Regions from separate parts of the Homo sapiens genome. Here all the other regions are linked to region 3. The links come from fine-mapping of genetic effects on gene expression. A gene starts in region 3. Each other region holds a variant in brackets. All regions are shown on one strand. Distances are between the middles of the regions. Region 1 has its middle 33 kb from the start of PDZD8. Region 2 has its middle 19 kb from the start of PDZD8. Region 3 holds the start of PDZD8 (PDZ domain containing 8).

Region 1 (10,964 bases), 34 kb after region 3:
TGGCTTTTTATAGTCATCTCCATCAGCATGAGCATAATTAAGAGCATCCCTAGACTGAAGAGTGTTTTGTTCTTTCCACAAAATTGCTTAGCTGGACAGAACTTTTTTCTTCCATGTTCTTCAATTGCCTCAAAAGATTATGGGGGTGGGGTTGGGGGGTGGATCCCTTTCTTAAGAGGAGGAGCAAGACTGTCTTTTTGACCGAGGATGATTTCTCACTATAACATTTAATATGCAATTCACTGATTCTAATGAACAAAACTGACATATATTTCCAATGTAATATGAAGATTAGGAATCATCTACTTGAAACTACTTTACACATCTCTATTTTGCAAAGGACCCTTCATATCACTTTTAACCACAAAGCCACTGCAGAAGGCCTTGCGTGCCCTCCCCTGCCTCCGCACCCTTGTTTCAGAGTCCAGAGGTCATATGCAAAGCATTTCGTTTGTGAAATCAAGAATTCTCTTCCCCTCTACTTTAGATATAAACTTTTTTTTTTTTTTTTTTTTTTTGAGACAGAGTCTTTCTCTGTTGCTCAGGCTGGAGTGAAGTGGCACCATCTCTACTCTCTGCAACCTCTGCCTTCCAGGTTCAAGTGATTCCCCTGCCTCAGCCTCCTGAGTAGCTGGGATTACAGGCACCTGCCACCATGCCTGGCTAATTTTTGTATTTTTAGTAGAGGCAGGGTTTCACCATGTTGCCCAGGCTGGCCTCGAGCTCCTGACCTCAGGTGATCTGCCTGCCTCAGCCTCCCAAAGTGCTGGGATTACAGGCATGAGTCACCACACCCAGTCCTACTTTAGTCATAAACTTTTTGTATTAAAGCATCCCTAACTGGGCTGGGCATGGTGGCTCATGCCTGTAATCCCAGCACTTTGGGAGGCTGAAGCGGGTGGATCATGAGGTCAGGAGATCCAGACCATCCTGGCTAACATGGCGAAACCCCATCTCTACTAAAACTACAAAAAAAGTTAGCCGGGCATGGTGGCTGGCGCCTGTAGTTCCAGCTACTCGGAAGGCTGAGACAGGAGAATGGTGTGAACCCGGGAGGTGGAGCTTGCAGTGAGCCAAGATCGCGCCACTGCACTCCAGCCTGGGTGACAGAGCGAGACTCCATCTCAAAAAAAAAAAAGCATCCCTAACTGCTCATTCTGCTGTCAAAATCGATGCGGGGTCAAAACAGAAAAATTTCAGAAGAGAATTTAGAGCTACAGCCTGTGAGAAACAGCAAAAAGTGAAAACCAAAGACCTGCTTAGGAAAACCCTCATTGAAGAGATGGGGAGGAAGGGCCTGAGCCCCCTACTCCATTCCACAATCATGTAAGTCATTCTTCTTTCTCTTGCCCTGGGGACAGAGAGAGGCCAGCAGCCTTACTCTGATGTCATTTATTTCCCATAGAAACATAAAAAGACTCACCAAAGTACTTTTTTTTTTTTTAGATGGAGTTTTGCTCTTGTTGCCCAGGCTGGAGTGCAATGGTGCAATCTCAGCTCACTGCAACCTCTGCCTCCCGAGTTCAAGTGATTCTCCTGCCTCAGCCTCCTGAGTAGCTGGGATTATAGGCATGCAACACCATGCCTGGCTAATTTTATATTTTTAGTACAGACGGGGTTTCTCCATGTTGGTCAGGCTTGTTGTGAACTCCCAACCTCAGGTGATCCGCCCGCTTCAAACTCCCAAAGTGCTGGGATTACAGGCGTGAGCCACCGTGCCCGGCCCAAAGTACTTTTAGTCAGATAATGTTGGGAAACAAGGGTCAACGTTCAATAAGCAAGGTCAGTCTGATTTCATCATTGCAGACCAGGGAGACTAATTTCCTTATGTGCATTGTGATTCTCGAGGGAGAACATGTTGTATGGTTTTCTCTAAAGGCATTTGGCCATGTAGCATTTTCTTCCCAGATCAGCTCTTCTTAAGGTTAGTGTTCCAAGGTGCAAGCTTTGAGAAATGCTGCCTGACAACTTTTACAAAAGTCTAAACCCTGGGTGTGCATGTTAATTCGTATTTCTCTATCCACACCTGGGAACCCGCCTCTCAAAGCAGTCACTTCCAAGAAGGAGGAATGTTTGTGCTGTGTAGGGCATCTGTGGTTTAATTCAGGGAATTGTCACCATGCTATTTGGCCAAAGCTAAGCCACATCCTCTAATATAGCTTTTTCAGTAATAAAGATGATATTTTTATTTCCATTTGTCTAAATACTTTGTCCTCAATTTGTTCAAAACTCAGGCAGAATTTCTTTTCTGGAATCAAAATTCCAACAGGGACTGGGCATGGTGGTTCACGCCTGTAATTCCAGCACTTTGAGAGGCCGAGGCATGTGGGTCACTTGAGGTTGGGAGATGAAGGCCAGTCTGGCCAACAGGGTGAAGCCCCATCTCTATTAAAACTACAAAAATTAGCTCGGTGTGGTGGTGTATGCCTGTAATCCCAGCTACTCCAGAGGCTGAGGCAAGAGAATCGCCTGAACCCAGGAGGTGGAGGTTGCAGTTGAGCCAAGATCATGCCACTGCACTCCAGCCTGTGCAACAGAGTGAGACTCCACCAAAAAAAAAAAAAAAAAAAAAAAAAAAATTCCAACAGGGACCATGAAGCTGGGGTTCCTCTGGACACATTTTGAAAACCACTGCTGGAGGCTTATGCAATGCCAGAATGGAGATTTTTGCCATTTGCCGGTAAAAGAAGCTGCGTGAGGCTTCCTGCCAGGTCTCTGACCCCGTGTGGAGGTAAAAGAAAATGATGCAAACAAAAGCAAAGAAACAACAAGATCAAATTAAGAACTGATGGAGGGCTGGGTTTGGTGGCTTACACCTGTAATCCCAGCACTTTGGAAGGTTGAGGCAGGTGGATCACTTGAGACCAGGAGTTCAAGATCAGCCTGGCCAACATGGTGAAACCTTGTCTCTACTAAAAATACAAAAATTAGCCAGGCGTGGTGGTGTGCACTTGTAATCCCAGCCACTCAGGTGGCCAAGGCATGAGAAATGGTTGAACCCAGGAGGCAGAGGTTGCAGCTAGCCGAGATTGTGCCACTGCACTCCAGCCTGGGCAACAGAGTGAGACTCCATCTCAAAAAAAAAAAAAAAAAAAAAAAAATGAAAACAGGCCAGACGCGGTGTCTCACGCCTGTAATCCCAGCACTTTGGGAGGCCGAGGCGGACAGATCACGAGGTCAGGAGATCCAGACCATCCTGGCTAACATGGCGAAACCCCATCTCTACTAAAAATACAAAAAATTAGCTGGGCGTGGTGGCGGGCGCCTGTAGTCCCAGCTACTGGGGAGGCTGAGGAAGGAGAATAGCGTGAACCTGGGAGGCAGAGCTTGCAGTGAGTCGAGATTGTGCCACTGCACTCCAGCCTGGGCGACAGAGTAAGACTCCGTCTCAAACAAAACAAAACAAAACAAAACAAACAAACAAACAAAAACAAACGAAAACAAAGAATGATGGAGGCAGGGAGACCTGACCAAGTCCAGGAGAGAGATGCTGGGAACCTAATCCAGGGCAATGAGGGCTAGGGAGAGGGGAAGTCACTGAGAGGCGGATAGGTAGGCAGGACTTGATGCCCGATGGCTCTGGGGCAGAGGGCGGAGGGGAGCTGAGGAAGACGTCCAGGTGGCTGACTTGGATGACTGTGTGGATGGAGCTACATGAGGAGGAATGGAGGGGGAAGGAAGGTTGTAATTTTGATCTGAACTCCGTGTCCTCAACTCTTAGGGAGAGAGGAGGAGGGGAAGCAGTACTATTGGCAATTAGTAGGAAGAGGGAAATTATGAGTACAGTGTGAGGCTTTTGAAAGGAAATCCTCTCTGGGGTTGGGGTGGAAAATTACTAAGGTGAAAAACTTGCCTAGGGAAGCTTTAAGCTTTCTCTCTAGGGGGCTGCTTTACTTCACTTCCCTTCCAGACTCACAGCTTGGGAGGTGAGATGGGCAGCTTCTCAAGTAAGAAGAGCATTCCAATTCAAGGGGTGCTTTGTCAACTTAAGTTTCCAATTGCCATTCTGTTGTCCACATGTGTCATGTTTCTTTAAGTTATTGGGAGTAGATCTGTAGGGGCTGATCCCCCTGGGCCTGCAGGAGCTGGAATATCTGAGACTTTGTCTCACTGACTTCAGCAGGTTATATCCATGAGAAGCCTTGGTTAGTGGGATCGGCCTTCCTCTAATTTCTGCACTGTCTCCCTCAAGGAGGAGCTGTAAAGATCACGTGAGATAACAAACATAGTGCACCAAATGTATTGACTGGCACTTGGCCGGTGCTGCCCGCACTAGATCTTCTTTTAATATCCATAGCCCGCAAAATGCCAGATCTTGAAAAAGGCCATCCTGGTGGCTTAAAGCACTGACCTACTTGGGTGTGACTCCTGGGGATAATAATCCCACCATCAAAAGATCATGGTAAAGATTCGAAGTGACATGCCATATAAAGAGCTTAGTACAGGCCGGGCGTGGTGGCTCACATCTGTAATCCCGGCACTTTGGGAGGCCAAGGTGGGCAGATCACCTGAGGTCAGGAGTTCGAGACCAGCCTGGCCAACATGGTGACACCACATCTCCACTAAAAATACAAAAATTAGCTGAGCATGGTGGTGCATGCGTGTAGTCCCAGCTACTTAGGGGACTGAGGCAGGAGAATCTCTTGAATCCTGGAGGCAGAAGTTGCAGTGAGCTGAGATCCTGCCACTGCACTGCAGCCTGGGCAACAGAGCAAGACTCTGACTCAAAACAAACAAACAAAAAAAAGCCAAGTGCAGCAGCTGGCACCTAGCAGTACATCACAGTGGCCATTACATTATAATTATTCTCATCAATCCAAAAGAGACTGGAGAAGGTGTGACTTCAGATGTGATAGACCAAGGCTTCACTCTATCCCAGAATATTCAAAAACAAAATGCCACAAAACACTTTTCCCATTAAAAAAAACTCCAATTGCCTTATTCACATATCATCCTTCAGAATCTATAAACAGTTCGTATTGTGGGCTGTGCATCAGCTGATCACTCACACTTTGCAAGGCTGCTCAGGAATATTCGGTAAACTCATCTTAGGGCCCAGTGGGCTGTAAGGTATAGTGAGTTAAATGGTGGCCTCCAGAAAGATATGTCCAACTCCTAACTTCTGGTCCCTATAAATGTGACATTATTTGGAAAAAGGGTCTTTGCAGATATAGTTAAGGATCTAGATCATCCTGGATTAAATAGATGACAAGTGATGAGAGAGGAGAGGAGAAGACACAGGGACAAGAGGAGACGGTCATGTGAAGATGGAGGCAGGACTGGAGTTGTGCAGCCACTAGCCAAGGAATATCTGGAGCCACCAGAAGCTGGAGGAAGCAAAGAATAATCTTCCCACAGAGGCTTAGGAGGGAGCATGGCCTTCTGATGCCTTGATTTCAGGCTTCCGGCCTCCAGAACTGTGAGATAATAAGTTTCTGTTGTTCTAAGCCACCCAGTTTGTGGCAGTTTGTTACAACAGCCGTGGTTAGCTAATTTACAAGGAACAGAAACACACTTAAACTAACTTTGAGAACCAAAAAGGTGGAGGAAGGGCACTTTCTAGGAGGACTCGAGGGAATATTATGAATTCCAAGCACAGGAAGTTCAGGCTGGCCTCATAATGGACAAGGCTCAGAACCTAGACAGTTGGGAATGGGGTGGCTGTCATGACACCTGATCATTCCTCGTTTGTCATTTCTCTCTCTCTATGCCTGCAGGCTGGCTCTCTTTGGTTCCTCACTCATGGGGCCAGTCCAGGCACCTTGAACCTGACCTGTCTTCACATCCCATTTCAAGTGCCTAAGAGAAAGGCATATGGCTCTGTGGCCTGATTCCAAATTCCAGGGAGAGAAACTCACTCAACCTTGGTCCAATCAACTCTTGCTAAGGGATGAGCTCTTGTGTCTGGAGGCCTTTGTCCAAGGGTATCTGTTGCTGTCAGATACCCTTGGAAGTTCCTACTTGAGGGCCAAAGATAATTTTGAAGGGCAGAAAACCAGCCAGCTAAGTTCCATTCAGCCACCAACTTGACAGGTCAGGGAGAATCTAACCTTCTTTTCAAATCTTCCTTCCTGCTTTAGAAAATGTCCTTAGCCTTCTAACTTTCTGTCTCTGCCAACTCTTCCCTTTGATATAACCGCATCATATTACTGAGAAGGAAAAAGCAGAAAAGCCATCCATTTAGATTTTCTTTCTGTTCTAAGCATGAAGTTAATCCACTGGAACAAAAACATTATTGATTTTTATCTGTTATAGTCTTCTCCCTGAAACAACAAATGTGTACTACTATTGGTATAATATTTGGCTTGTTTTGGATGTAGACCTTAATAAAAATTACGGTTCATTATTTTTTCATATTGCCTTTGCATGGCTCCTTTAGACTCAGTGGCACATGACACGTTTGGAAGTTGAAAGACTTTATATTTGACTATAATGCTTTTGATCAACAGAGCAAAGCCTGAAACAAAACCCAAAGCCAAACCAGGCAGGGGTGTGGGGACAACAGGAGAAACAGGTTCTGGGGAGAGTCCCTTTCCTTGATGTTCATTCAAAAATCAGTGAGAGTTTGTTGAGTGCATAACTAAGTTCTGGGCATTTAGCTAAAGATAGGATTACAGAGGTGAAAAAGCTGGACTTCTATTTCCCACATGGAGCTTATAGCCGAGGGAGAGGCAGGCAGAGATAAAGGAAAATGATGCAAATAAATGCATATTTGCAAGCTTTAACAAAGGCTATGGAGGAACAGTGCTTTGGCACGATGAGAGTGAGTATGAGCAACTCGGGCAACCAGCCTGA[G/C]GGGGCAGGGAAGGCTTCTCTGAGGAAGGCTATTTCCTTGAGATCTGAAGGGTGAGTAGGTGTTTAAGTGGGTGAAGTGGAGAGGTAGAGGTTGGGAGGTGGGGCATCTTCCAGACAAAGGGAACTTTGAGTATAGATATTCATTATGCCATTCCTGTAGGAACCCATAAAATGTAAATCTACACACACACACACACACACAGACCCACAGAATCATGGAGGAATGAGCCATCAGGCAGCTGTGCTCTGCTTTTTTTGCCATCTGCAGGTAGAAGAGGCTACTTGAGGCTTTCTGCCAGGCCTCTGACCCCATGTGAATCTCCCTGGATCATTTTAAGAGGATCCTGAAATCCTTGGTCCTGTGGAGTACCCCCAGGGCTCTCCCTGTGTCAGCCTCAACTACAGTGTATCAAGGAGCTCTCAAAAGAGCCTCAGCAAACAGAAAACAGGACACTTTATCAGAAAGAAAATTAATTTGGAGCTGTCTTTAGTTTTACCGTGTCTCTAAAGGGAGAAGATGGGATTCTTTGGGCATAAGGAGACGCCCACCTGGAATCTTCCCATCTGAGCTCTACCCATTGAGGTCTGCCCATCTGAGAGCTGCTCAGTGAGGTCTGCCCATCTGAAAGCTACCCATGGAGGTCTGCCCATCTGCCAGCCCAGCTGAGGGTTGCCCATCAAGATCTGCTTATCTGAAATCTGCCCATCTGAGGTCTGCCAGCCCTTCTGAGAAGGCCACCTGGAGGAATAAGTTTATCATCCCAGGAGCAGGAATCAACGTGGGATAAAATAGAGGACATGAGCAGAGGGCACCTGGCTTCTCCCCAGGACACCTTCTTGGCCGTTTCTAATGAACTGCTCCTTTCTGTGTGTCGCAGGACTTGGGGTGCACCTCTCTATCACAGCCTGCTATATAATGCTTTACCTACCTGTCTGTCTCCCCAAATAGTTGCTGGGTTCCTTGAGGGACTATATCTTTTTCAGTTTCTGTTCCATGCCTACTGTCTGGTATCTACATGATCAGCATTCAATCAATATTTCTTAAAGGCAGGAATACATTAATTATTAATTTTTACTCTGCTATCAGTCCCCAGGCATTTTGGGGCTGAACAGTGTTACTTAAAAATAGGTAAATGGGATTAAATTAATGGTATTATTCACATGGCCTTGCACATAGCTCAATCATGACATGTCGAATGGGCGGTTATCAATATCTCTGTGTTAATCCTCTGAAACTTACATGTAGCACAATTTATTTCTTAATGGCATTGATTTTGTAACAAGGCAGCATTTTGGGGGAGCATTCACACATCCCTAAGCTGATTATTTCAGTGAGTCAGAGATCTTTTCAATTACCATTCTCTTTGTACATAAGAGTCTATATTTCTGCCCCCTCATTAAAGAAAGGATGTTGGTCCTTTGGTTGGCACCAACCGTTGTAGGTCAGGACAATTTTTTATTTTTATTTTTTGTATTCAGGAAACAAAGGCTAAAAGTCCTTCAGCAATGGCAGTTGAGGTTTCTGTATCTCCTCCTTACATAATGAGTCCTGCCAGTTAGGACTGCACGAGGTGGGAGGAGGTGGCAGCTAGCCAGGAAGGCCTGTGGCATTTTGATAAACAGACATCAATATTTATCAGAGCTGCTCCGGTGTGCTTCCTTGGCTGCAGGAACAGGGAGCCCTCCCTGGGCTTGTATATTGTTTTCTCTGTATGAGATAAATGTTTGGGGCCATTAAAGAAAAAAAAATGTTTGTACTCTGCTCCCCAGTTACCTAAGCTAATTTACCTCACTAGGAGGTCTTGTAGTTCATTAATAATATACAAATACAAATCAAGGGAAGAAATTGCCTTGTTAATTGACTTTTGCGATGGTAATCTAAGACTCATTGACTTTAAACATTGCCCAACAACTGTGTTTATACCACACTGGAAGGATCAACTTTGGAGAATGCAGAAAGCTACCCAAAGCAGATACTTGAAATCATTGCTGCTTGGCTTTGTAAACAGACACCCATCTCCATTTGTTCTCTTTAGGCATCTGGAGGTAGAAGACAGAAAAGAGACTAAGAGCGGGGAATAGACTCAACCATTCTAGAATACAGCCCGGATGTGTTACAGGATCCTGCCCTGGAGTCCTCGCGCAATCAATGTTTATGCTGTGCTCTGCTGGGCTGTGCTGGGCTGGCCTGGGCTGTGCTGTGCTGTGCTGTGCTGTGCTGTGCTGTGCTGTGCTGTGCTGGGCTGTGCTGGGTTGTGCTAGGCGGTACTAGGTGTTGCTAGGCTCCTGCCCCATCACAAATGGTTGCAACAAGATTGATTAGAAAGGGTACCATTAGATTCAGCTGACTGGTTCAATTAGGAGAAAGGTTCATCACTCTTAACACATCAAATCTCCCCCTATGTCAGTCTTTCACTGACATCAGGGGCTGGGCTTCTGTCTCCTCTTCTCTTCTCTGATCATTGCCTGTGCAGAAGACATGGAACTTTTGTCTGTTCATTAATAGAGTCCAGTGGTAAGTTTTCCCAGGCCAGCCCTGGTGGTCAAATGCTCTGGATTCGATGCCTATCCATTCTCTCCTCACCCTGCAACCACCGGTCCCCAATTCCTACAAGTCTGGAGCTGGTTTCAAGTTCATGAATGTGACCTAGAGAGTAGCAACCTCCCAGCCTCCGGCATAACCCATGTTCTCTCTGACTCTGCTTGGGCCACGTGGATAATAAATCTGGCTCCTCCTTGAAGCAGCCACTCACCCATCAGCATGGGCAGCCATGCAAATTTTCCTGCAGATTTCACAGGGGAGACAGAGCAGTTTGTAAGTTGCATGCTCCACAGCACACAGCCTTAATCCCCTTGTTTGATTTTTAAAATTCTCCCCAAGGCGCACCTTGATTGCTTTGCCTCTGGGACTCTTCCTTTCTGACCTGGCCCTTTGACATCTTTTAATTCCTCTCATTCATGCCTTTCTTGATTAAAAGAAGAAGAGAAAAAAAGCTAGATCTGGAGTGTGAAGCTTGAGATTCTTTTTTTCTGTTCTGTAAAATGGGGATGATAATAATTCCTACCTCATAAGGTGAGAGGGAGAATTAAATGAGAATTAAGTAAATATAAACTCTAAAGTAATGTTTTGCAAATATGACCCATGAAATCAATTTAATGGGTTGCTACCTGCATTAACATGAAGTAAAAAAGAATAGAAAATATCAGAGTGTATTGCATGTAGTAAGCATAAGTTTTGTGAGTCTTTTCTTCTGATTTTGTATGTGTATGTGCATGTGTGTGTATGTGTGTGTGACCACTGGCAATGTAAAATGGACTCTGCTGTGAGTTATGGTAAAAAAAAAAAGTTTGAAAAACATTTCTCTAAGAGTTACATGGTTTAGGTATTTGTCGTTAAAATTTGTCTTCAGCTTTGAAGTTGAAAGATCATTGTTGAAAAGATCAGAGATCCTCATTTACCCCCATTTAGGAGATGACGTGACCTCACACAAAAGACACAATCTGGCAGCCTGGGGATCTAATTCTGTTCAGGCAATTTTTATTAGCTCACAAACGTTTATTTTAAAAATTTGATCACGCCTGTAATCCCTGCACTTCGAGGGCCAAGGCGGGTGGATCACGAGGTCAGAAGATCGAGACCATCCTGGCCAACAAGATGAAACCCCGTCTCTACTAAAAATACAAAAATTAGCTGGGCATGATGGCGTGTGCCTGTAGTCCCAGCTACTCGGGAGGCTGAGGCAGGAGTATAGCTTGAACCAGGGAGTTGGAGGTTGCAGTGAGCAGAGATCGTGCCACCGCACTCCAGCCTGGCGACAGAGTGAGACTCCGTCTCAAAAACAAAATACAAACAAAAAAAAATTTGAATTAATTAGTATCATTTGAAAAGCAGGAGGTTGGATATAAACATCTAGATTTTTCATTTCTCATGGAAATTTGGAGATTTGGCCACATCATGTATCTTTCCTCATTTATCTCCTGTCTGGGCTCTGGAAACTTGCCAGGCTTTGACTCTTGGATGACTGTATGGGGCACAGTTCCTGCTCCTTCCTTGCCCTGGAATCTTTCTCAATCAATGTTTGTTTTAAAGAATCACAAAGCTGGAACGTCCCTACAGGTTCTCTGGGTTCAAACCCTCATTTGTCAGTGGAGGAAAGAGGATTAGGGAG
Region 2 (10,964 bases), 20 kb after region 3:
TTGTGCTTCCTCCTGTGCTGACTTCTTTCTGGTATCTCCAGGCCTTTGCACATGCTGCTTCTTCCACCTGAAACTCTCTGCCTCTTCTCTTTGCAGGTAACCCTACCCTTAAAGTGTAGACTGAAATCTTCCTCTTTAGGAGACTCCCCTGGCCCTAACCAAGGCTTATCCCTTGCTATATCCTCATATAACATCCAATATATGTTCCCTCATCCTGGTGCTTATGGCAGAGACTGCTACTTGCTTCGTCCATATCCATTCACTCATTTCAAAGAAGAATTTGGGAACAGCAAATTGTTCAGATTTTAAAAATGACATTTCCCAACCAGCCTTGCAGATAAGAGTGGCCAATGAGATATAAGCAAAATTTTTGGGTGGGAGCTCAACAAAGGATTTTGATTTATTATCTCCATATCTCTTTTGTACTTCCCTCTCCCTCCCCTGGCCTGGAATTCAGATGTGATGGCTGGAACTTCAGTGGCCACTTTATAATCATGTGGTAACCTTGAGGATAGATGCCACACACTGAAGATGGTTGAGCAGAAAGACAGAATAAGCTCAGAACACTGATGACACTGAAGCTGAACTCAACTTTGCAATACCCACCTTGGAACTTTTTTTTTACATAAAAAAATTCCCCTTAAGCTGTCAAACTACTATTACAGGTCTCTGTTACTAGCAGCCAAATACACTCCTGACACAGTATTCACCACACTTTACTATCATCACTTGTACAATGTGTGTCTTGTAAACCACAGTTTCCCAGCACTCAGCACAGGGCCTCGCCCATAGTAAGTACTCAACTGGTATTTATTAAGTGAATGAATTTACATGACCTACTCTCCACTTTGGTGAGAAAGAGCCACCTTCTCCTGAAGCCCTAAGACCACTTGTTTGAAGGAAGAGGCTTTGTAGAGGGGAGCCAACACTGACACCAGAACGTCCTATCATGCTGGGAGAGGAGGGATCACTGCTGGCTCTGCTCCTCTGGCAAAGCCAGGGAAGGTAAGTAACTCTGGAAGAGAATAACATTGCTGCAGCAGCAACATGCTTGGAGATGGCAAGTCCTTGAGACTGCCAGTGGATCTAAATCTACTGTGTGGAGATCAGTGTAACTTTTGGGGCCCAAGAGCATATTCACCTCATCTCTACTTTCATTCAGTCCTTAGGTGATCTCATCCAGCCTCCTACCTTTAAATGCTATTCATATGTGTATGCTTCCAAATGCATTTACTCACTCTGAGCTCCTCTAGGAAACCCATATATCCAACAGCCTACCAGCCATCTCCACCTTGGTGTGAGATGACTTACTGTGTGTAAGACTGAGCGAATATCCATCCCATGAGAGTTCCTTGGGCATTTCCCGCCATATTTATCAATGGTACCTCTGTCATTCCAGTTGCTCAGGCCAAAAGCCTTGTGCTATCCTTGACTCCTTTCTCTCTTATCTGCATTCACACTTGCAACACATCCTATTGGTTTTACCCTCAAAATATATTCAGAGTTTCACCACTTCTCACCGCATTCACTATCATGGTTCAAGCACCATATTTGGCCTGATTATTGGAGTGGTCTCTTAGTTGGCCTCTCTACTTAAAGGTCTCTCTGGCCTTTGCTACCCTAATGTCTGTTTCAACACAGACACCACAGTGACCATGGTAAACCACAAGTCGGATCATGCCACTCAACTGTTTGAAACGTACCAGTGGTTTCTTGTGGGGGGGCCCAGAATAATGGCCCCCAAAGTTGTCCACATCCTAATCCCCAAAACCTGTGGATATATTACGTTACGTGGCAAAGGGGCGTTACTGTTGTGGGAGGAATTAAGGTTGCTAATCACCTGATCTTCAGATAAAGAGATTATTCTGAATTATCCAACTGGACCCAATGTAATCACAAAGGTCCTTAAAAGTGGAAGAGAGAGACAAAAGAGAAAGTCAGACTGATGCAATGGGAGAACGATTCAAACTGCCACTGCTGGCTTTGAAGATGGAAGGGAACTAAGAGTAAGGAATGCAGACAGCTCTAAGGGCTAGAAAGGCAAGAAAATGGATTATCCCCTAGAACTTCCAGAAAGTGAGGCAGCTCTGCCAACATCTTGATTTCAGTCCAGTCAGACCTGCTAGAGGTCTGACTTTAGACCTCCAGAATTATAAGATAATAAACTTGTTTGTTTTAAGCCACTAAGTTTGTGGTCATTTGTTATAGCAACTGCAAGAAACTAACACACTTCCCCATCTCATGCGATGTAAAAACCAAAGTCTTCATAGGGAAGTCCAAGGCTCCAAATGTCTGGGTCCCCGTTACCTCTGTCTGCAGTTGTGTCTCCGGCTTTCTGCTGCATTCACTCTGCACCACACCGCCCCTTGCCACACATCTTTGTAGAATGGATGAATGATTTTAAAACTTCACTTCCAGAGGACAGAGGAGAGGTGACTTGCCCAGGGTCCCCCAGCAGGGACTTGAACCCAGGACTCCAGCCCTGCCACAGTGGGTTACCATGTTTATTGTACTTAGCTTTCACTTCAGCCTCCTCCCCAAAAAGTCTGTGGTTAAATCTCCCCAGCCACCTACTGAAGTGCTTGAATTCCCTCCCAATGAGGAAATCCCTGTTGTAATCATATCATTCCTTGCCATAAGAGTAGCTCATTTCCTGCTGTATGAAATTCAGCATGGAAACATTTTCCCTGTAAATGGCAGGGGAAGAAATTCCCAGGGCATCAGATTGTACTGATCAATACAGGCAAATTCTTTAGGAGGAAAAGACAGTCCTGGCTTTCCTTCAGCCAAGGAGGTTTACTGGGTGGGTTCCTGTTTATACAGGAACAGGATGGAGAGTGAGCTACATAGAAACCTGGATGAGATTCTGAGTATTGCTGCCAACATCAAGCTCCACTTTTGCTGACTTATCATTTATATTTGCAAGTGAGAAGGTTTGATTGGTTAACTTGCTGCCACTCAGAGGAGGGCCCCCCGCTGGACCTTTGTGTGGAGTCACCTCAGAGCTGATCAGCCACCCTCGTGTCTGGCACATGTGTGTTGTAAGCTCTTCCCGAGACTGATCTCTGGTCTGGTCAGCTGTTGCCAGGACAGCGGAACTGGCTTCTCCTGTAAAGCTTGTGCATACCAGCCTGGCAGATACCACAGGCATGGGTTGCTTAGATTCTTTTGTCTGCCTAACTTTGCTTTTCTTTTCTTTTTTCTTCTCTTCTCTTTTCTTTTCCCCTTCCCTTCCCTTCCTTCCTTTCTTTTTTGAGATAGAGTCTCACTCTGTCACCCAGGCTGGAGTGCAGTGGCACGATCTTGGCCCACTGCAGCCTCCACCTCCTGGGTTCAAGCGATTCTCTTGCTTCAGTCTCCCGAGTAACCGGGACTACAGGCGGCCGCCACCAAGTTTTGCAATTTTTGGTAGAGATGGGGTTTCACCTTGTTGGCCAGACTGGTCTCAAACTCCTGACCTCAAGTGATCTGCCCGGCTCGGCCTCCCAACGTGCTGGGATTACAGGTGTGAGCCACCGCGCTGGGCCAACATTCCTTTCTTTTGAAAACTCCCCTCTTCCCTTCTAGGCTGTTCTGAAGTTCTCAATTCCAGGCCCACCCCTTGGCCTTAAGGATAGGCACATGTCCCAGGTCTGGCCAATTTATAGCACCTGATCCCTCTGACAACAATGATTGTTCTAGAGAAGGTGGGCATGTGACTGAGCAGGGCCACTCACAATCTAACCCCAAGATGAATGTACAGGCTTAGGGAAAGAGACACTCTCTTTCTGCTGGGGTGCCTAAACTGGGAGAACATGAACCTGAGGTCACTCAGTGGAGCATGTCTGTTTGTGCAGGAAGCCAAGCAGGATTAAGCAAAGATGAGAGGCAAATGGAGAGATGGTTCTCTATGCGGTGAGTTCCTGAGCCAAGGGCTATGGACTCTTTTTTCTGTTGCTCTTTTTTGGCTTCTCTGAGTCACCTACTGCCCTTCCCAGCTATGTGAACCAACACATTTTCTTCCTGCTGTATAGCTGGTTTATATTGTGCTTCTGTTATTTGCTCCCAATTGATTTTGACCAAAATAGGGGCTTAGGTAGGAAGAAACTGACTGTGACCACTTGCCACAGGCAAGAAAGACTTAGAACCCATTTATGAGGAGATTAATGCCACAATTCCCTTATAGGGATCTTTGGAAGGACTGGCCTGGCCTGGGATATCCTTACAATGTAAGTATATATTCAACTCCTGAATGTGCCTAATGAAATCTGATCCTGTTATTCCCTGTCTCCTTCAGTCTTAAAACACTCTGATGGTTTCCCGTAGCTGTTAAGACAAAGATCACAATCATCAATGGGCCTGCAAGGTCTGACCTCCACCATCTGGTTCAGAGGTCTGAAAACTTTTTATTAAAAAAAAAAAATCTACTTTTTTTTTTCTTTTATCTTCTTTTTAAATTTTTTTTGAGACAGGATCTCATTCTGTTGCTCAGGTTTGGAGTGCAGTGGCGTGATCACAGCTCGCTGCAGCCTCGACCTCCCAGGCTCAAGTCATCCTCCCATCTCAGCCTCCTGAGTAGCTGGGACTACAGGCTCATGCCAACAAGCCCAGTTAATTTTTTTTTATTTTTAATTTTTCAGGAGAGATGAAGTCTCTCTATATTGCCCAGGCTGGTCTCAAACTCCTGAGCTCAAATGATCTTCCCACCTTGGCCTCGCAAAGTGCTAGGATTGCAGGTGTGAAACACTGCCCCTGGCTGCAAACTTTTTCTATAAAAGGCAGACAATACATTTTCTAGACAGCATTCTGAATTTCTTCCCACCTTTGTGGGTCATAATGTCTCTGTTGCAACTACTCAGCTCTATCATTGTAGCTGAATTCAGCCCATGGGCCATAATTTGTTGACCCCTGGTCAGGAATGGTCGGAACCTTTCATCCAAACACACATCCAGCCTCACTGGCCTTCTCTCAGAATCTTCGTATTCCCACCCATAGGCTCCCTCTCCTCATGGGGCCTCTATCCAAGCTATTTTCTCAGCTTGGCTATTCTCCCAAATCTGTGTATGGTTAACCTTACTTACCACCTGGATCCAATGACAGGTTTCCAGGGAAGTCTTCCCTGACACTCTGAGACTGGGCCAGATTCCCCTAGCACATACACACCTTCCTAGCATTCTCCATCTCTCCTGTATGGCATTCACCATGGTTGTAATTTTTAGGATTTTCATGTTGGTTTGCCCTCTGTCTTCCTACTACGTAGGGAACCCCATAATGATGAGGCACTGTCTTTTTTTTATTACCTAGCAGAGTGCTTAGTACATAATAGGAGCTCAATATATATGTGATTGAAGAAAGAAAGAGAGGGAGAAAAGAAAACAGGGAGAGAAAGAAGGAGAAAGAAAGATGGAGGGAGGGATAAAGAAGGAAAGAAGGAATCAGCCCTTTGAATTTACCTGTTCAATGACTGAGAATGAGAATTCAAAGTAATAAAAGTAAATGGAATATTTTTCTTACTCATCCATTGCTGAAATCAGAAGAACATGAAGAATTGGTAAAAACTGGCACTTCTCCCTACCCATTCAGACACTTGGTAGCTTTTGGTGCTTGGGTGACATCAGATCTCTAGTCAGACTGGAATCAGGAGGCCTTCTCCTTGCCACTCTTCCTCCCAGCACCTGGACCCTCCCAGTTGCGATCATGTGTCCAAGTTCCCCACAGGGATGCCCATCAAGGTCACCTCTCTCAAAGTGCCTTTTCCCAAAGTTACTCAGGCCTCCTGGGATCAAATCCCAGCTCCAGGACTTAGGGGTTGTGTGACCACGAGCCAGTCATGGAAACTCTCCAGGTTTCTGGTTCCTCTCCATAAAGTGGGGATACCATTAAAAAATGGGCAAAGGATATGAACTGACACTTCTCCAAAGAAGAGATACATGTAACCAATAAGCATATTAAAAATGCTCAACATCACCAATCATTAGAGAAATGCAAATCAAAACCACAGTGAGATACCATCTCATACCCGTCAGAATGGCAATTACTAAAAAGTCAAAAAAATAACAGATGCTGGTGAGGTTGTAGAGAAAAGGAAACGTTTATACACTGCTGATGGGAATGAAAATTAGTTCAGCCATTGTGGAAAGCAGTTTGGCGATTTCTCAAAGAACTTAGAACTACCATTCAACTCAGCAATCCCATTATTGGGTGTGTACCCAAAGGGATAGAAATTGTTCTACCACAAAGGCACAGGCATATGTATGTTCATCACAACACTATTCACAATGGCAAAGACATGGAATCAACCTAAATGCCCATCAATGGTAGTAGACTGGATAAAGAAAATGTGGTACATATATGCCATGGAATACTACATAGTCATAAAATAGATTAAGATCATGGAGCTGGAGGTCATTATCCTATGCGAATTAGTGCAGGAACAGAAAACCAAATACCAT[A/G]TGTACTCACATGTGGGAGATAAACTATCACAAGTGGGAGATAAAGATTGAGTACACATGGACACAATGAAGGTAACAATAGACAACACAGCCTACTTGAGGGTGGAGGGTGGGAGCAAGGTGAGGATAAAAAAACTACCTATGCTTATTCCCTGGGCAATATGCTACCTGGGTGATGAAATAATCTGTACACCAAACCCCTGTGACATGCAATTTACCTGTATAACAAACCTGCACATATACCCCAGAACCTAAAATAAAAGCTAAAAATAAATAAATAAATAAAGTGGGAATAATGACATAGGGTTATTGGGAGGATTTAATGGCATAATATGTAGAAAGTACTTAACACAGGGCCTGGCACATATTTAGTGTCAATAAGTTAGCTATTATTAGTTAAATTTTTAAAAAACTCTATCTGATCATCTGATTATAGCAGTCAGGCTCATCTTCAACATATGTGGGGCCAGGGCTAGAGTACAAATGGTCTAAATATTTAAAATTATAACTAAGTGGCATGCGTTGTAGTCCCAGCTATTTGGGAGACTGAGGCAGGAGGATTGCTTGAGCTAAGGAGCTTGAGGCCAGCCTTGGCAACATAGGAACCCTATCTCTATTAAAACAACAACAACAACAACAAAAATTAGCTGGGCCTGTTGGCTCATGCCTGTAGTTTTAGTTACTTGGGACACTGAAGTAGGAGGATTGCTTGGGCCCAGAAGTTTGAGGCTGCTATGATTGCACACCACTGCACTGCAGCCTGGGTAACAGTGAGACTCTGTCTCTAAAAAAAAAAATTAAAAAAAATAATAATAACAAAATAGAAAATTATAAATCAAGCTGCAAAATACATTTTTTCTCCCCCTACATTGACAAATACGACTTCATAATGGAAATTTTCTTTTTAAGTTGGAAAACTATAGTTTTTATCTGACTGAAAGTCTACAAAATATCAAGAATAACTGAATTCAGGTATTACTGTGTACGTGCTATTGATGGCCCAGAAATATTTGAATGAGTGATAAAATAAAGACATATATCATGAGTCATTACATATTTCATAAATTTTTTTTCTTTCACAGCAAGAAAAAAACTAATTATCTAATTGCAATTAAAGTATGCAAATAATTTACATTCCATTGATATGATCCAAAAGATTAAAACATAAAATTATATTCAAAAAGTATCAAATTTTAATATATTTCCATCAAAAATGTAAAATGAAAGTAAATGTAATAGTTAAAGTTGAATATTTTTGAAAAAAATTTTTAAAGCATGAAAAATATTTACATTAAAAGGCAAAGTAGAGGGTCGGGCATGGTGGCTCATGCCTGTAATCCTAGCACTTTGGGAGGCTGAGGTGGGCGAATCTCAAGAGATTGAGACCATTCTGGCCAACATGGCGAAACCCTGCCACTACTAAAAATACAAAAATTAGCTGGGCGTGGTGGCGTGTGCCTGTAGTTGCAGCTACTCAGGAGCCTGAGGCAGGAGAATCACTTGAACCCAGGAGGCGGAGGTTGCAGTGAGCCAAGATCGTGCCACTGCATTCCAGCCTGGCTACAGAGTGAGACTCCATTTCCAAAAAAAAAAAAAGGGTTAGGCGAGGTGGCTCATGCCTGTAATCCCAGCACTTTGGGAGGCTGAGGCGGGCGATGGTTCACCTGATGTCAAGAGTCCAAAACCAGCCTGGCCAGCATGGTGAAACCCTGGCTCTACTAAAAATACAAAAATTAGCCAGGCATGGTGGCAGGTGCCTGTAATCCCAGCTAATTGGGAAGCTGAGGCAGGAGAATCTCTTGAACCCAGGAGGCGGAAGTTGCAGTGAGCCGAGATCGTGAGATTGCACTTCAGCCTGAGCAACAGAGCGAGACTCCGTCTCAAAAAAAAAAAAAAAAAAAAAAAAGGCAAAGTAGAAATTATAAATTAATGAGTGTAAAAATTATAGATGAAATTATTTCAGTAAAGTTACATTTTTTGTTTAAAATTTTAACAGTGGAGTTAAATCATAATAAATACTTTTACAAAAATAAACTATTCAGTATTCTAGCATTCACCGTTTTAACTTAGTTGCCAATACAAATAATCAGTACTACATGCACTTATTTCATGCCTAAAATTACAAATCATATCTTCAAGATGTCAATCATGACATTGGGTTATGGATAGTTGATACGTGATGGTTCTACTACAGCCTAACCACATGGTGACATTTTATTATGTGATTCGTGTAATTCATGAAGAGTTTAGGAACCACAAATGAAAGAAATAAAATGAAAAGAAAAGCTCAGCATGACAGGGAATGATACTATGCGAAACAAAAATCTGTTTTATTCATGCTCTCTGGGAGGAAGAAATTGACAAGTTAATTAATTTGCTTTTTCTCTTCCTAATGGTCCCTACCACTAAAATGCTCTCTGCCCTCTGAAGCTGTGTCCATCTCTGATGTTGGCAGCAGCAACCCAAAAACCTTTATGACCTTCAGGACAGGTAGCCTTTGTTTTGAGGATAAAAGGTAAGAAATATGGAAAAGTGTTCCCTAGGGCTTGAGCAGCGTTGGTGCCAGGAGCAGATGTTTAGGATTAGGGGTAGTGATATGCCAGTGCTGAGCACCAGGTCCCATGTGACAAAGGAACACACATGTTCTTTAAGAAGTGTGTATGTGTGTGTATTAGTCTGTTCTCATGCTTCTATAAGGAACTACCAAGAGGTCTAATTGACTCACAGTTCTGCAGGCTGTACAGGAAGCATGGCTGGAAGGCCTCAGGAACTTACCATCATAGCGGAAGGTGAAGCGGAAACAAGCATGTGTTACCATGGCCTAGCAGGAGACAGAAAGAATAAAGGGGAAGCGCTACACACTTTTAAAGCAACAAGATCTCATGAGAACTCATATACTATCATGAGAACAGCAAGGGGGAAGTCTGCCCCCATGATCCAATCACCTCCCACCAGACCCCTCCTCCAACATGTGGGGATTACAATTTGGCCTGCGATTTGGGTGGGGACACAGAGCCAAACCATATCAGTGTGTGTGTGATATTATGGGGTCACCCTTCTCTTTCCCAGGTCTGAGGGCAATATGGAAAGGAATACCCTGGATAATTGACTGATTGATAGGTCATCTGGGGTATTTGCATTGCAAATAAGCACTTCTGCGTAGTCCCCAAAGAAGCCCTGGGATGAAGGGGGCCTTAGAAGGTGGTTTTGAACTGAGAGACTTCTTGCCTACATTGGCCCTTTCTGCCCGCCACACATCAGAAGAATGAGGTTCAGCAGCTGGGCATCTCATTCTGAGCCTGCACTCTGTACACTTTTGCTAAGGAAAAGTAGAGTCACATTGGTTAAGAAAATACATAGCAATCAAGTGTCTTAATTCTTTTTTTTTTTTGAGATGGAGTTTTGCTCTTGTTGCCTAGGCTGGAATGCAATGGCGTGATCTCGGCTCACCGCAATCTCTGCTTCCCGGGTTCAAGCAATTCTCCTGCCTCAGCCTCCCATGTAGCTGGGATTACAGGCGCACGGCACCATGCCCAGCTGATTTAGTATTTTTAGTAGAGATGGGGTTTCTCGATGTTAGCCAGGCTGGTCTCGAACTCCCAATTTCAGGTGATCTGCCCGCCTTGGCCTCCCAAAGTGCTGGGATTACAGGTGTGAGCCACCATGCCTGGCCTAAGTGTCTTAATTCTTAATTACCTAATAGCAGAGTTTCAGGAGAGTACTTTGACAAATAACTTAATAATAAACATATCAGAATGAAACAACTAATAGAAAAGGATAAGATCCTGATCTTCAGAAAATGCCAACACTTTTGTTTTTCTAAGTCATGAAAGAAATCATCAAGATATACTGCTCATAAAATGTCTACACATAAAGGTACCATTTATGAGCACAATACAACAGCCTAAGCCCTCCGATAAAAACTGAAGGAAGTGTAGAATTCTCATTTTATAGAGAAGGAAATGGAGGCACAGAGAGGCTAACTGGCTTGCACACGGTCATACAGCTGCTAAGTGGCAGGGGCAGTATTCCAAGCCAGCCACGTCCAGATTGTGACTGTGTAACCACCATGGCATACCAGCCCTTTGCTCTCTTCCACCATACATCCAAAGGAATCAGATAGTCAACATTAGCAAAGAAAAATTCCGTGGGACCCCTAGCTGACCATCTTTCTTCTGTGCACCCTTCAGTTTCCCCCAAAAGACAAATAAGTCTTTTTAGCACCATGTAAACATTTAATAAGCGTGTGTTAAATTTTCAGTTACAAAGTGTAAAGCAACATTTGCAGGCCTACCTTTCCTGTTGGGTAAAAACCTGACCACTGAACCATGGACTACCTCTTCCCTCTAATTGCAAAATGTTGACTTACTTCATCTTTTGAAGACCAATGATCTTTGCAAGGTTACTGTATGTTTAAAAAAAAAAGTGCCTTCAGGGCCTTGAGTCATAAGATGGGAAAACATGTTGAAGTGTTACAAAAATATTGACAGTATCTCTATGATTTTTCAGTATCTTTATGATTAATGAGATTTT
Region 3 (10,964 bases):
CAGCATCCCCAGCAGCTGGGACTGCAGGTGCGTGCCATTTTTAGTAGAAGCGGGGTTTCACCATGTTGGCCAGGCTGGTCTCGAACTCCTGACCTCAAGTGATCCACCCACCTTGGCCTCCCAAAGTGCTGAGATTACAGGCATCAGCCACCACGCCAGGCCTGACAATGTCTTTTATTTATTTATTTATTTATTTTTACTTTTTGAGATAGAGTCTTGCTCTGTTGCCCAGGCTGGAGTGCAGTGGTATGATCTCGGCTTGCAGCAATCTCTGCCTCTCGGGTTCAAGCGATTCTCCTGCCTCAGCCTCCTGAGTAACTGGAATTACAGGCATGTGCCACCATGCCCAGCTAATTTTTGTATTTTTAGTAAAGATGGGGTTTCGCCATGTTGACCAGGCTGGTCTCGAACTCCTGACCTCAAGTGATCCGCCTGCCTTGCCCTCCCAAAGTGCTGGGATTACAGGAGTGAGCCACCGCACCTGGCCAACAATGTCTTTTAAAAAATAAAATTGCTCTATGACAGTCCCTTCAAAAATGTAATTAAAAGAAGGATAAAAATGATCACTCTCCCTCTCCACTCCAGCTATTAAGTCTTCTCATTTTCACTAATCAGCAACAGTAATGCTCCCTATTTACTCCTCCAGTACGGGTCTCAAATTCATATAACTCCAAGCCAGGCAAGTACCATCAATTAAGCACAGCAAATAAGGGGGGACTATAAACTCCACCTAGGAGCTTACACACCGAGTTTCAACCCCAAAGCTGCTACTACAGTCCATCTCTCCATCCTGTTGTTGCTCTGAGAAATGCAGCACTGGCGCTACAAGATATTCCAATTTTTCCTAACAGAAGCCACAAATCCAAAACACACAGAATTTTCCATTTTTTAAACAGTGCAGGCCAAATTAAAAGTACCTGCAAACTGAATCTGCTTGTCTATATACAATAATACTCCAGGAACACAAGCATCCGTAAGAATCTCAAATATTTGACTCCTAAACCCTAAACAGAGCTCCCCACCCAGACACTATTACTCAGACTCCATGTTTAAGATGAATTATCCACGTAGTAAAAGAACATTAGTGGTAATCTTTCTCCCTTGAGGATGGATTCTGAGGTTCATTTAAAAAAATATATTGCTATTATAATATACTATTTTAATTAAAAAATCAAACCAATTAACATTGAGGTGGATGAATGAAATTCCTAACTTGAATAAATCTGTAAACATATTGTCTACATATTATAATTCATTTTGTAAAATAAAATGTTTTACAAACATTGTAAGTTTGTTAACTTGGGTAAAATGAAATGTCAGTCAGCTGGGTCCTTAGAAAGCAACCACTTGAGCAACTTAGCATCTCTAGGTGAAACATCAGGAACTGGCAGTCCAGAGAGGCTGATTCACTTTAGCAACACGAAAAAGGCAAAATAAATGAAGGGGGAAAGAAGTAATAACAACGTTAACTGGCAAGATATTTGTTATGTAATGATTACAAATGCCAAAGGATCGTAAGACTCCATACAATTCTCTTTACTGCTTTAGCTCTACTAAGAAGATTAGATAGCTAAAAAAGAATAAACTAGGCCGGGCACAGCGGCTCACACATGTAACCCCAGCACTTTGGGAGGCCGAGGTGGGTAGACTGCCTGAAGTCAGGAGTTCGAAACCAGCCTGGCCAACATGGTGAAACCTGTCTCTTCTATTTGGAAACACAATTCTGCTCAATTAAAAAAGAAATGCCACGTGGGACAGTACCCAAAGATTTAGCCTCATGATTTACTTTTAAAAGGATCCTCTAAAATGACCAATTTAAGAAAAAAAAATCAGCTTTATAGTCATACTCTTCTCAAGAGTTCTAGGTTAGTTTGGAAAGATATCCCACATATTTACTATATCGATGGCATGCTTTTAAAAAATAAATCACTTAAGAACAACATAGTTTGTGTGTGTGTGTGTGTGTGTGTGTGTGTGTGTGTTTAAAGGTGGCCTGGCCTTATCAGAGCTGCGTTTCAACACTTGAAAGCTGTGTGACTTTAAGCAAGTTATTTAACTACTCCGAGCTCCATTTCCTCATCTGTAAAAAAAGATGAACACTAGCTAGTTTAATTTTCCCTGTGAGAAGTATGCTATATCTTAGATGTATTGTAATTCATTCTTATCTGAAACTTGAATCAGTCCCACATCATCACCAGTTTGTTTATTTATTTATTTACTTATTTATTTTGGAGACGGAGTCTCACCCTGTCGCCCAGGCTGGAGTGCAGTGGTGCGATATCGGCTGGCTGCAACCTCTGCCTCCCAGGTACAAGCCATTTTCCTGCCTCAGCCTCCAGAGTAGCTGGGATTACAGGCGCCCGCCACCACGCCCAGCTAATTTTTGCATTTTTACTAGAGACGGGGTTTCATCAGGTTGGCCAGGCTGGTCTCACACTCCTGACCTTAAGTAATCCGCCTGTCTCAGCCTTACAAAGTGCTGGGATCACAGGCGTGAACCACTGCACCTGGCCCATCACCAGTTTAAAACACTGGACAGAACAGCTACACAGACAAGAAGTCATCACTTGCTGAGGCAGCCCTTTTCATCGTCATACTTGCTATTTTCTTCTACTAAGCTAAAACCGGCTTCCTGGCTACTTCAACCCCATCAATCCCATTCTAGTTTAAATCTTACAAAGCGCCGGGCAAGGTGGCTCACACCTGTAATCCCAGCACTTTGGGAGGCTGAGGTGGGAGGATCACTTGAATGAACCCAGGAGTTCCAGACTAGCCTGGGCAACAAAGCAAGACCTATCTCTACAAAAAAAATTTTTTTTTAATTAGCCAGGAGTGGTGGCACACACCTGTGGTCCTAACTACTTGGAAGGTTGAGATGGGAGGATTGCTTGAGCCCAGGAGGTCGAAGCTGCCGTGAGCCATGATCCTGACACTGTACTCCAGCTCTGGGCAACCGAACAAAATCCTGTCTCAACAAACAAACGAAAAACACAAAAAAATTACTAAGTATAGCTAATTCAATTCTCACTAGACTCTAAGCTTCCTGAGGGCTGAGTTCAAGTATTGTTCAGTACTGAAATCCCAGCATCTACAACAAGGATAAGCATATAGCAGGTGTACAATAAACATTTACAGATTGAGTGATATGCTCTGTGCAGCTGACTGAGCATTGAGATGCCATCCAGTATAAATAGCACAGATGTGCATACTTCTGGAAATGATCATTTAATGCTTCACATTTAGAAGTTGAAATATCATAACCAAATTCATGCTGTTTTTAAAAAAATCCCTTCAAAGTGAAAAGCAATTTTGCCATACTTTTAAATGGTTGTTATTCAATGATACAGATAATAGTTTTTCAAAGTAATAAACTTCTCAATGCCTCCATAACTTATTCATAACTTACTTCAGATTTACCTAAATTCCAAGTCTACATTAAAAAAAAAATCTCAAAATGATATGTAATCTCACTGTCATTGGCTAGTCTACAAATTTCAAAATAATAATCTAGTCAAATTGTATTAACTGAAAGCTATCAGAAAACATCATAATTGAAGTTGTGATAGAATACCAAAATTTCTAGCAACTTTTTCTCATGACTTTTTTGGCAACACACTGCTATAAATAAACATCTCTCACTGCTTAAACACTAGAACCGAGTTATAATTTAATCACTGATATTCCAGAGGTTAAAAGTAGGTTTCATAAAGTATGTTCTACTTCACAGAACCAGAAATCGAACACAGTGAACAACCAGTTCACCACCCTCCGCAAATCTATGGAAATATTTCCATTACAAAGTAAATTTCTCCTGCCACGCAAGTTTTAAACTGTCACTCTGCGCTGTTAGCCTAAACAAAACATAATTGGTAAGGTACATCTGCCACATACAGAAGTCAATAATCCATTCCAAACCCAAAATATTTCTGGATTATCTTGCTCCTGAAAATTGACACTGGTAGAAAATTAGTGATCCAGAAATAGGCAACTTCCACTAAAAGGCAAGTAAAATTAGGTAAGTAAAATACAAGACTGACATAATTTTATAATAAAGGGCAAAATTTTAAAGGCTCAAATGTCTTAGTGAATACAAAATTAAAGGAGGACCGAAAGAGAAGTTAAAAATTCAGCTTTTTACAAAAGAAAAAGCACCTTCCACTCCACCTCTAGCCCTAAAAAAGTCTTTCCCCTTCCACTCCTACAATATTAAAACAAAATTTATATACTACTCAAAACTGTATACCACAAAATTTAAGCCATCAGATGCTGGAAGGCTTAAACAAAATTAAAATCACTACCTAGCATTAAAATACAATTTGTACAGTGACTTCAGGTCCCTTGAGAGAAGAACTTACAGTCACAGAGAGTAAATGCTTGATGGGCAGAGTCTGGATCTGTGTTCTACAATCTACCCAAAATGGGCAAATGACATTAATACAAAATGTAAAGTACACTATGTACAGGCTCCCAACTCCTTTCCCATCTGCTGTGGAAAGTATTCCCGGGCCGGGCGCGGTGGTTCACTCCTGTAATCCTAACACTTTGGGAGGCCGAGGCAGGCGGATTACTTGAGGTCAGGAGTTCGAAACCAGCCTGGCCAATACGGTGAAACTCCGTCTCTACTAAAAAATACAAAAAAAAAAAAAAAAAAAAAAAAAATCAGCAAGGCGTGGTGCCATACGCCTGTAACCCCAGCTACCTGGGAGGCTGAGGCAGGAGAATCGCTCGAACCTGGGAGGCAGAGGTTGCAGTAAGCCGAGATCGCGCCACTGTACTCCAGCCTGGGCGACACAGCAAGACTCTGTCTCAAAAACAAAAACAAAAAAAACCCACAAAAGTATTCCTTTGCAAGAGTTACCACCTCTGCCTTGAAAGGTGTCAAACCATCAAAGCAAAAGTGGCTTGCAATGTCAAATTAGCACAGACCTGGGCTATAAGCACACTCTTCACGCGTGTACTGTGTCCAGGAACAATTTCTCAAAGCGGCCAAGGGGATGCTGCAAAGCCAGTGACGCGGCTGCCCTCAATGCAGCAACCACATAGAGGGAGAGTTTCTCAACAGTCCCAGAAGCGACTCCTGGGGATTAGGGTAGGCTTCCCTTCCATTTCCAATATGCTGCTTATAAAAGGAGACGATTCTGCCCGCGTTGACAGCACCCTGAGTCCCCATGAACACGCGAAAAGGTTTCTAGCTCCTATCAATGCCGTTCGGAAGCAAAGCAAGTGTTCACGACTCGCCTTGATCTGGGGCCCTGTCCAGGGTGGGAAGGCCCCAGAAGCAGGCGCCAGGACAGAAATGAGCCTTTGCCCTTCCCAATCCACGCAGCGTCCCGCCCAGGCCCGGGTTCCCGGCAGCCAGGCCCCCTCCCCGACCTCCAGCTCACCTGATCTTGTAATTCGGTAGGGTGTGCTTGCGCTTGATGATCTTCTTGAGCTGGTTGACGATGATGGAGGTGAGCTGGGGCATGGGCCGCCCTTCAAACTGGGAGCGCACCTCGAAGTCGATCAGCGGGTCTTCCACGAAGGAGAAGAACCAGTGGGTGAAGGGCACGCGCGTAAAGACCAAGCGCAGCCTTCCCACCACGCGGGACAGCTTGACAAACAAGTAGGCGGACTTGCCGAAGACCAGGTCCACGTCGATGGCCAGGTGGAAGCCCCCGTTGTACTCCACCTCCGCCTCGAAGGCCAGCTCCTCGGGGCAGGCGGCGGGCAGCGCCTCCCCTTCAGGGCCATCGGGCTCCCCGGTGGCCGAGGGCACGACTGGCCGCACGAGCCGGATGGTCTTGATGAAGGGCACCGTCTCGCCCAGGAACACGTCCCGCAGGCTCAGCCCCTCCAGCAGGCGCCCGGCCGTCTTGGTCTGCAGCAGCTCCTCGAACTCCACCTTGATCTTCTTGGTGACCCAGCGGCGGGTCAGCGCGGTGTCCCGCAACTCCCGGAACAGGAATAGGATGGTGGCGTTGAGGAAGTAGCAAGTCTCCCGCGTCGGCGGGGCGGGGGTCTCGGGGGCCGCGGTGGGGGTCGCGCCGCCCTCAGGGGCCGCTCCGGAGGGCTCCTCATCCCGGCCGCCGCCATAAAGGTACTCCCTTAGGAGCAGGCCCGGCACTGGCTTGATGTAGCGGAAGCCCTCGCCCGCGCGGGCGGCCTCGTCCGCCGGCGGCTCGGGCTGTCTGCGGTACAGCAGGAAGAACTGGGCGAGGAGCGTGAGGAAGGAACCCAGCACGGCCGACGCCAGGATCATGAGCAGCAGCCCCATCCCGCCACCGCCTCCGCCCGGGCCCCTACTCCCGCGCCCACAGCGCCGCTTTCTTCACGCCGCCGCCCCCGCTGCCTCCATTTTGAGGACATCGGGCGGCTGGGTCGGGGCGAGCGGCTCCGTGGGCCTCGTCCAGGGGCTCGGGCCGGCGCGCTGCGGCGCCCGAGCCCGCAGCGGCCCGCGCCTCCTCAGACGCTCCCGAAGGGCCGGTGTGGCGGCGGCGGCAGCGGGGCCGGGACCGGCGCCTCCCTCAGGCCTCCACTCATTGGACGAGCAGCGCGTGACGTCAGAGGCGTGCTCGCTCCCGGCGGCGTCGCCCAGCAGTCGGCGCCCGGGCACGCGGACGCGGGTCCTCCTTTACTTCTCTGCGGCCCTTCCAACCTCGTCCCCCCACGCCAACATTCCAATCCCCGCGGCGCGCGCCGCCACCCACGTGGCCGTCACTTCTGGAGCTGCGGTCGGGATCTGGGAGGACGGCTGGGGACGCGGGCTGGAGGATAAGGCGGTCCGGCGGAGCGGGCCTGACGCGTTCCGGATGCCGGCCATCCCGTTATCCTCGGCTGCGCCCATCCCCCGTCTCTGGCCGCAGTCCCCGCGGTTACCTCTGCAGCGGCGTCGCTCATCCTGCGGTGTGCTTCTTCCACTCGCACCCGTGACAGCCCGGCTGGCAGCGGCGCTTTCCCTGCGGGCAGCACCGCAGACGATCCGAGCGGGCCTTTCGGACGCTTCCCAAGCCCACGGCGAGAGGGGACCGACTGCCTCAGAGGCAGCCATCGCGGACCTGCCGTCCCCCCGGCAGACGCTCTGCGTCCGCGGAGGGTGGGCCCTGGGAAGGAGGGACGCAGGGAAAGGGCGCGCCACGCGGAATGACTTTCCCACCGAGGTGGATCTTCGAAATTTCAGGGAGGAGGAAGTTGAAAGAACAGCCAGGAGGAGAGATGCATAGTGAAACGAGTTTGCCAAGTGATTGGAAGATTAATATGCGACCCGCTGTCAGTCTCTGGTTAAGCCGGTAGTCCATCTATGAGGCAGTTATTCACTGTTAGCCCCCACCCACTTGACAGATGCCAACACTGGTGCAGAGAGCGTGGGGAGGTTGCGTGGGGCCGCAGAGTGGAGCCTGGTTTATCTAACACTAAACCCTAATGTCTTGATCACTACTCTCTGCCCTAACACAGAAACTGCTTCAGTTGTAAGCAGGCCAGTGGGTTCCCTAATGTTCAGGAAGGGAGAATTGGGGAGGCGGATTAGGGAAGACGGCAAGGAATTTTGCATAGAGTAGCACCTTAACCAAAGCCACGAAGCTAAGCCAGGTTGCCCAGCAACAGCGTTACTCCTCCTGCCCTCTGACTACTTAGTGGTTACATCATAAATGCTTATCCCTCCAAGCACGTGGAGTTCCAGTCCTGCAGGAGTCAGATATCCCATACCTTAAAGGCCGATTCTGGCTGTACCTAAGGAGCCAGGGCAGGGCTCCTCTCTAGCCCTTGAAAACCTTCAAGCCGGCCGGGCGTGGTGGCTCACGCCTGTAATCCCAGCACTTTGGGAGGCCGAGGCGGGCAGATCACGAGGTCAAGAGATCGAGACCAGCCTGGCCAACATGGTGAAACCCGTCTATACTAAAAATACAAAAATTAACCGGTCGTGGTGGTGCGCGCCTGTAGTCCCAGCTACTCAGGAGGCTGAGGCAGGAGAATCACTTGAACCCGGTAGGCGGGGGTTGCAGTGAGCCAAGATCACGCCATTGCACCCCAGCCTGGGCGACAGTGCAAGACCCTGTCTCAAAAAAAAAAGAAGAAAACCTCCAAGCCAAGGATTCTCTTAACTGTAGGTGATTCTACCACAAAAATAGACCTGACCCAGCTGGGACAGGTACAGAACTTCGGAACCAGGCTTATCATGCCTTACCGAATCATGCCCAGATACGAAACCAGAATGGCTTTCATTACTATGAAGACATAAGATAGGTGTCTGCTGAGGAACCATGCTCAAACCATGGCCGAGATTTTTCGGAGATCTTGGCAACTTCTGTTCTCTGGTCCCCTTTGGTTCCTGGCCTCTGCTTCTGGGCTGCTCTCTGGGATCTACACTGTTTCAACTCAAATGAGAAATGTAGACCCTTCTATGATTTCCACCGTAAACCTATTCATAACATTCATGCACATTGCATATTATAAATGTTACAGAAGCTGGAAGTAGGGTGGCATGAAAGAAGTTATTCACATTCCTGAAATATAAAACCCTCAAACTGTATATTGATCCATCCCGAGTTGCAAAATATTCTTCACCCACCTCCCTCCTCAACAATGAAAGTTTGTGGTCTTCATGGGAATGAGTCCTCAGTCTTCATCTTGCAGACTCCTTTCTTTTCTCTTCTCCTCTCACTTCTGCGCTCCTCAGAATACCTGTGAGAATCTTAAATCTTCTCAGTTTGTTTTACAGAGTCAGAGTCATTGCATTCCCCAGCAAAACTTGACCCCTTAGGGACACACTTCAAATCCATGAAAGAGCTCAGCAAACCTTTTGGGAAGAAAAAAGTATTCTCCCTTGTGTGAAACATGACCAACATTGATTAAACACTAATAATAATAATACAGAGAACTGACCATGTGCCAAGCACAGTGTTAAGCATGTTATTTAGAAATATTTAAATATTTCAAACATTATTTAGAAATCAAAATATCATGAGTTTTTGTAAAGTCAAATATGCAGTCATGCACCATAGAAGGATGTTCTTGTTAACGACAGACTGCCTATAGGATGGTGGCCCCATAGGATTATAGTACCGTATTTTTACTATGCCATTTCTGTGTTTAGAGATGTTTTGATACACAGATACCATTGTGTTATGGTTGCCTACAGTATTCAGTACAGCAACGTGCTGTATAGATTTGTAGCCTAGGAACAATAGGCTATACAATATGGCCCAGGTATGTAGTAGGGTTTCCCATCTAGGTTTGTGTAAGGACACTCTGATGTTCGCACAATGATGAAACTGCCTAAAGATTCACAACTTATGTCTGTTGTTAAGCCACACTTGACTGTGTTTGATAAGTTAGGAGATAATGCTCTGGATAATATTGGTGTTAGCATGCCCTTTATTTTATGAAATTATACTATGTTAATAGAGACGAATTTGTTTTAATGCTATTTTCTGGAAAAGGATAAATTCAGCAACCCCTCCCTTTTTTTCTTATATTAATGCTGGTTCATAGAAACTCAAAAGCCTGAGAACCACTGGCCCCAGCTCTGAAGATCGATGATTCTGAATAGGTTTTTAAAGGAAGCAGTTGTGCTTAGCCTCCCTGCTGACTTTTTAATGTGTTTTAAATGACATCATTGAAATTAAGCTGCCCCAACAGCCTTCATGGAAATATCCATTTCAAGGTCGAAGTCAGTTGAATACTGGAAGATGGGTTGCATATAAGACATTCTCACCAACTAGAGGGATGCATGGACCACTGCTTGACTATGAATCATTCCTGGTGACCGCGAAAAATAATGAGAAAGCCAAACCACGTAAATGTGCAAAGTTTGTGAGTAGCATGAAAGCAAATTTGATTTTTTGAAAGATGTAAAATAATGCAAATATAGTGAAATATGGTGGGAAACATAGAGTTTATAAGGTTTGCCTAACAAATGATACATCAACAAACCATTTTGTGAACTGGGAGAATTCAAATTCCACAACTATTTTTTGAGCATCCAACAAGTACTAGGCTCCAGGGATACTGAATGAACAGGGGCGCTGCGCCCCAGGTGGAAGCAGACACACATCTGCATAACTCTGATGATAGGAGATAGTGCTCTAATAGAGGCACATGCAAGGTACTATGGGAGCAGAGCCTTCTGGTTCAGGGGCAGTGACAATTGATTGCAAGGAACAGCAACTACCTCAGGCTAACTTACAACTAAAATTGGATTCACGTTAAGGATGCTGGAATATCTCCAGGAACTCAGCTGCAAGATGTTCATAGAAATCCTAGAGTAAGAAAACTGTCTCTCACTCTCATTTCCTCTGCCCCCACCCCTACCCAGTATCTTATTTCTGCATCTCCCTGCAGGTCTGTGCCATTTTACTCCAGAAGGCTCTTGGTTTCTACTTCCCCATTACCCTCAGCACACAGGCACTTTGGGAGGCACCAGCTCTCTATCCAGATCTAGAGGGTCCTATGTCTCTGATGGCTAAGGTAGCCTGCAAGCTCAATCTCAAATCCTGGGAGAGAAATCTCCAATTGGCTGTGCTACTCCAATAATTTATGACCAAGGAGCTTGCCTCTTCTGGGCTGCTGGTGGGTGGGGCAACTTCTTCAAGGACTGGGAGAGGATTGAGAAGACATGATGGGCAATACTAGCTCAATAGGGGATAAGAGATTAATTCTTGCTGGGGAAGGTGGGAGGCTTTTGGGGCAAATGGAATTTGCATTGGCATTTAATGATTAGAAGGGCATTCTAATCAGAAGGAGACAAAAACTCAGAAGATGGAAACCCGCCAGTTTGGGGAAATTGAGACCAGGATGACTGGAAGAAGGTAGTACGAATAGGTTGGTGCATCAAGGAGAGAAGGGAGATGGAGGTAGCATAATAAAGTAGACACAAACTAAATTATGGAGAGATTAAATGTCAGGGCAAGTTTTTATTCTATTTTGCAGTTTTTGTGAAGTCTTCAAAGGTCTTTAAGCTAGAGAATGGCATTAACACTTTTCCT

Evidence for each region. PIP is the estimated chance that this variant, and not a neighbour inherited with it, causes the effect.
Region 1: its variant is fine-mapped to the expression of PDZD8 in esophagus mucosa (GTEx, PIP above 0.99).
Region 2: its variant is fine-mapped to the expression of PDZD8 in whole blood (INTERVAL, PIP above 0.99). The same link has a PIP of 0.9 or more in neutrophils.

Annotation. Positions count from the first base shown.
Region 1 is chr10:117,403,249-117,414,212 of GRCh38, forward strand. No RefSeq gene overlaps it. Among named protein-coding and RNA genes, the nearest start is that of PDZD8, 33 kb to the left of the region's middle. RefSeq lists cis regulatory regions at 5,699-6,057, 8,180-8,668. The variant G/C (reference allele first, on the strand shown) is at 6,796.
Region 2 is chr10:117,389,035-117,399,998 of GRCh38, forward strand. No RefSeq gene overlaps it. Among named protein-coding and RNA genes, the nearest start is that of PDZD8, 19 kb to the left of the region's middle. The variant A/G (reference allele first, on the strand shown) is at 6,432.
Region 3 is chr10:117,368,972-117,379,935 of GRCh38, forward strand. It overlaps PDZD8 (PDZ domain containing 8), which reads right to left and starts at 6,469. Exons shown (of 5, transcript NM_173791.5): 1 at 5,385-6,469. The coding sequence starts at 6,256. RefSeq lists silencers at 5,960-6,139, 6,240-6,559 and an enhancer at 6,790-6,909.